2 separate regions of the Homo sapiens genome follow, and region 2 is linked to region 1. Evidence: fine-mapped expression QTL. Tissue or cell type: whole blood. Region 1 holds a variant in brackets; the other region holds the start of a gene. All regions are shown on one strand. Distances are between the middles of the regions.

Region 1 (2,758 bases):
TCTCAATGATATGGGTCCTTTCTCAATGATATGGACCTTTCATTAATACATCTACTAAATGTGTATTGAGTGGTCCCTGAAACAGGCACTAGAAATGGCCCTGAAGATATTACCATGAAGAGAAAAATATACTCTGGCATTGTAGAGCTAACATGCTAGAGGAGACAGCCAATTTTAAAATATAGACAAGCCAGGCCTGGTGGTGCACACCTGTAGTCCCAGGTACTCAGGAGGCTGAGGCAGGAGGATCCCTTGAGGGCAGGAGTTCGAGGCCACAGTGCTGTAATCACACATATGAATAGCCACTGCACTCCAGCCTACACAACAGAGTGATACACCATCTATAAAATTAAATTAAAATATAGAAAAATTTAAAAGCTTAAATGTGATAAAGGTATTCATCATCTATTTGACATACACATTTTTAGTGTCTACTACTTGCCAGGCACATGCTAGATGCTAAACACGTGGTGATAAGGGAAAAGGACACAATCCTTACTGTTATGGAGCTCATGGGCAGACACTAATACCATAATAACAGTCATGAACAGTATCACAAACTGGCCTAAGGGCTGTTGACCAAAATGAATAAGGGAAGGGATGCTTGATACAAGAACCAAACAATGAGTTAAAAAATTAACTAGGCAGGAGGGAGGAGGGACTGCTGAAAAGAAAGCAAGCATATCAGGAAGAGGAAGACAAGCTCAACAGCACTGAAGCTAAAAGGAGTGAGAGTATGAGGAACTGAAAGAAGATTGTATAGCTAAAACACAGGGTTAAGGGAGGGTAGCATGAGAGGTGGACAGGGGCCAGATCACACAGGGCCTTATGGGCTACAGTAAGGAGTTCAGATTTTGTACCAAAGATAATGGGAATCCACTAAAAGGTTTTAAGCAGTGGGTGAAAGTGGAGAGACAGTTAATGAGGCCCTTGCAGTGGGCCAGGCAGCGGAGGGTCATGATCTGGTCTAGGGTTATGCCAGTGGAGATGAAAGAAATGCATGAAATTAATGAACTGGGAAATAGAGCTGACAGGACTTGTGAGTAACTTGAAAGTTATATATATATTGGCCGGGCGCGGTGGCTCACACCTGTAATCCCAGCACTTTTGGAGGCCAAGGCAGGCAGATCACGAGGTCAAGAGATCGAGACCATCCTGGTCAACATGGTGAAACCCTGTCTCTACTAAAAATACAAAAATTAGCTGGGTGTGGTGGTGCGTGCCTGTAGTCCCAGCTACTCAGGAGGCTGAGGCAGGAGAATTGCTTGAACCCAGGAGGCGGAGGTTGCAGTGAGCCGAGATCG[C/T]CCCACTGCACTCCAGCCTAGCAAAAGAGCGGGACTCTGCCTCAAAAAAAAAGAAAAGAAAAGAAAGTCATATATATGTTATAGAGAGATACAGATGGAGATGAAATGACATGATGTTTGGGATTTGCTTCAAAATGACACACAGGAGAAGGAAGCAGAAAGTAGAAAAGGATGTGGATGGGGAAGGATTGGCTGTGGGTTGATAGTTGTTGGGATGAATGATGTATACATGGGGGTATCTTATACTGTTCTGCCAACTTTTGTGTATATTCAAAATTCTCCATTATACAAAGTTAGAAATGAGAAAAGAAAAGGAGGAGACAGAGAAGAAATAGAATAAATCCTAGGTTTTTGGTTGAGCAATCAAGAAGCTAATGGTGCCATTCACTGAGATGATGAAGAAGATGGGCAGAGTAAGACAAGAGACTTGGGGAGTACCGTAAGTGTCATTTTGGACATGTTAAGTTTTATATGTCCAGAAGATATGCTGAGGAGGAGGATCAAGTACACAACTGGGTATACAAATTTGAAACTCAAAGGAAGGATCTGCACTAAAGATATAAATGTGTGAATAATTTGCATATACATGGCATTTTAAACCATGAAAATGGATGGGATTTGGTGAAAATTATGTGTCAATGTAGGTTCATCAATTGTAATAAATGTCCACTCTGGTGGGGGATACTGATAATGAGGAAGGCTAGTCATGTGTGAGGACAAAGGGTATGTGGAAAATCTCTGTACTTTCCTCAACTTTTCTATGAAGCTAAAACTGCTCTAAAAAATAAAGTCTATATTAAAAAAAAAAAGATGAGGTTATTTAATGAGAGAATTTAGACAGAGAAAGACCCAAGACTAAACCCAAAGAAACAAAATTTAAAGGTCGAGTAGATGAGAAAGATCTAAAAAAAGAAGTTTCTAAGAAGTAACAGCCACGGGAATGTTATAGAAACAAGAAGACTGTTATGTTAGGACAGCCTAGATGAGAGAATTTTTCAAGAAGAAATAGTAGCCAACTATTTCTGAAGCTGTTGAAAAGTCAGATAAGATGAGAACAGGGAATATTCACTGGACCTGGCATGTGGAAATAATTAATAGGCTTGATAATAATAGTTTCGGGTTTCTTTGTTTTGTTTTGTTTTGTTTTTAGAGACAGGGTCTCTCTCTGTCTCCCAGGCTGGAGTACACTGACCCAGTCATGGTTCACTGTAACCCTGAACTTGCAGGCTCAAGCAATCCCCTTGCCTCTGCCTCCTAAGTAGCTGGGGCTACAGGCGCATGCCACCACACCCGGCTAATTGGCTAATTTTTTTATTTTTTGTAGAGAAAAACAACAGCCTATGTTGCCCAAGCTGGTCTCAAACTCCTGGGCTCAAGCAGTCATTTCCTCTCGGCCTCCCAAAGTACTTGGATTACAGGCACGAGCCACCACGCCCGCCCAAAGTCATAATTCT
Region 2 (2,628 bases), 55 kb after region 1:
AAGGGCCAGGAGGGATGGGGGTAGGGGTTGCTGCACACCCAGGATGGCCATTCTCGGTGGAAACAAGCCTCAGGTGTCCAGGAAAACTGGAGGAGGGAGTGGCTGCGCTGTCTTTCCCTGGCTTTCTTTCCACATCTGGTCTCCAGCTGCCTTAATTCTCATTCCCTCAGCCCTCACCACTGTGGAGCCAGGTCTCCCCGCACCCTGCCGGCGCGCCCCCCAGGACCCCTCGCCACTCACGCAAAAGGCCAGCAGGAGGACGTAGAGCAAGAACTTCACACATTTCATTCCTCCTTCCACCGCCATGGCTGCCGGGCCTGGGGCAGAGGGGAGGGCGGGGGGATTAAAACTGGCCGAAGGGGGACCTCGGTTTCCGGGCTCCCGGCCGGCCCTCGAGGGCTTCCCTTCACGGCCCCGATTCCCGGCCCCTCCCACCCGGAAACCCGCGGTCGGATCCACGTCTCCCAGCCCCCTCTTTACCCGCAGGAGAGGGGTGGGGGCGACGGCCGCGAAGCCCGGACCCCGCCCCGCCGCCTCTGGGGCCCAGGACAGATCCAAGGGCGCCGGCAGGGGCTTGAGCCTGACGCCGACCCTCGGCCCGCCAGTCTCCGGGCGTCAAACACCCTTTCCCCACCCAACACCCAGCCTGGAGAAACGGTCTTCAGCCCAACCCCGACCCCCGCCCCAGCCCCTTTCCCCTGGGCTCTGACCTCCCCGCCCACCAAAAAAAAAAAAAGTGCAGCCAGCACCCCCGCCACACCCTGCCCGGGCCCAGGGAACTTCGAAGCAAAGTTGCTCCAGGGCGGCTGGAGAGCGCCGGACGAGTCTCCGCGGGCCTGGGGCGAGCCCTGGAGGAAGGGACTGCGGGTGGTCTCTCCCAGCCCGCGCCGAAGTCCGCCGGGTCCCCGCGGCCTCACCTGGGCTTCCCAAGGCTGGCTGCGCGTTCCTCTCCCGCCGCGGCTCCGGGGCTCTCTAGCTGCGCCCCCCGGCTCCCGCCCCGCCTGCCGCGCGGCCCCGCCCCGGGCTCCAGCCACGGTCCCCTCCCCCGCCGAGTGGCCGCCGGCCTCCCTCATGTGACGCGGTAACAGCTGCGGCCTGAGTCACTGGGCCCGGCGCGGGGTGGGCCGAGCCCCCCGCCCGGCCAGGGCCACGTGGCCCCTACCCGGAAGAAGGCGCCCACCCCCGCAAAGGGAAAGCCGCAAGGGCAAGACCTCGGGGCGCCTGGGGCCCCCCTCTGGCGCTATACCTCCGTGCCAACTCGGGGTAGGAGAGCGGGGCGGAGCGCAGCCTGGGTCACTCTGGTTCAGAGAAGCGGACGAGGTGGGTGAGAGTTACCCTCTGAGCGCCGGGGCGGAGAGCTGAGGCCGGGTGACAATGTGGTCTGTGAGGTTTCCCCATCCTACCGTAGGGGATGAGCCAGCTCTCTCCTCTGGCTCCAACTCTGTGCAAGCCCCCTCCCCATCCGACTGTGCAGACAGCTGGGGACTGCCTGGGGTCGGGTGGGGCCAGAACAAACACTTCCAGAAAGTCCCTGGCTCACATCCTGGGTGTCTCCCAACATTCTACAGCATTCTAGAGTGGGGATTTCTGGCCCCCCTCTATTAGCACAGCTTCTCCATTTTCCAGGGATCCTAGTCTGAGAAAAGGGGAGGAAGCCCTTCCCCGAAGCCACGCTACCCAGTCAATCAAGACACGTCCGCGTCGGGTCCCGCCCTCTGGGGGAGGATTGACAAGGTCTGTGCTTCCAGCCTCCCAGACAGCTCCTGCATCCGTCTGTGATAGCGAGGGCTTGGGGGAAGACACGAAGGCAGGAGAGGCTTACATCCTCTGGATTTCCCCGTCTTATCCCAGAAGACAAAGCCAGGTGAGGGCTGGAAGCGGGCTAGGGGGATCAAGCTGCCTCCCTCCCTTGTGTGCCAGGGGTGGTCCCCAGAAGGAGCTGATCTGAACAGGCCGGAGAGTAGGACCGGCCGTCACACCCCCACACCTCCAGCCTCGGCCCCACTCCTTGGGCTCTTAAGGTCCTGCCTCAAGAACCACTTCCTGAGTCTTAGTGTATGTGTGTACACAAAGAATGAAAGAAGTCTCTAGAGCTAAAGGAAGGAGATCCGGGCTGGGCTGAGAAGCATCTTCCAGGATCACGGCCTTCCCGCGGGACACACCAAGCCCATTCCGGATCTTGCTCTTCCTGACCATGGCTGGCAGGCTGTGGAGGAGGAGCGGAGAGCAGAAGAAAGGAGTATTCATCAGGTTCCTTATTGTGCTGCCACTAGATGCCAGGCATGTGCTAGGCTTGGGGGCTGCAAGGAGAGGAAGACAGCGGCCCTGCCCTCTGCTAGCAGGCAGAACCGAGTTCTGGCCACACTGTGAAGAAAGGCAGAAGCCTGCGGTGGCAGCTGGTTAAGCTCAGAGGGAGGGAAAGGGAGAGGAGAATGGATTTCACGGAGCAGAAGGATGTGCTCAAGGTGACCTTGGAGAATAAAGGGGAGAGCTCCAGGGACAGAGAAGCAGTCGACTGTGGAAAAAAAAGGAGCATTTTGTAAAGTACATGGCAGGTTGGGGTTGGCTGGCTCAAAGGGCTTGGGACGGATGTGGTGAGATGGGCTGAAGGTGGTCTGAAGATCAAGA

The links. PIP is the estimated chance that this variant, and not a neighbour inherited with it, causes the effect.
Region 2: CD63-AS1 starts here. The variant in region 1 is fine-mapped to the expression of CD63-AS1 in whole blood (TOPMed, PIP above 0.99).

The regions. Positions count from the first base shown.
Region 1 is chr12:55,673,115-55,675,872 of GRCh38, forward strand. No RefSeq gene overlaps it. Among named protein-coding and RNA genes, the nearest start is that of TMT1B, 7.2 kb to the right of the region's middle. RefSeq lists an enhancer at 504-643. The variant C/T (reference allele first, on the strand shown) is at 1,305.
Region 2 is chr12:55,728,036-55,730,663 of GRCh38, forward strand. CD63-AS1 (CD63 antisense RNA 1) reads left to right here and starts at 1,059. Exons shown (of 2, transcript NR_183514.1): 1 at 1,059-1,320; 2 at 1,627-2,628. It overlaps CD63 (CD63 molecule), which reads right to left and starts at 974. Exons shown (of 8, transcript NM_001780.6): 1 at 918-974; 2 at 241-317. The coding sequence starts at 306. RefSeq lists silencers at 371-670, 941-1,320 and an enhancer at 800-1,406.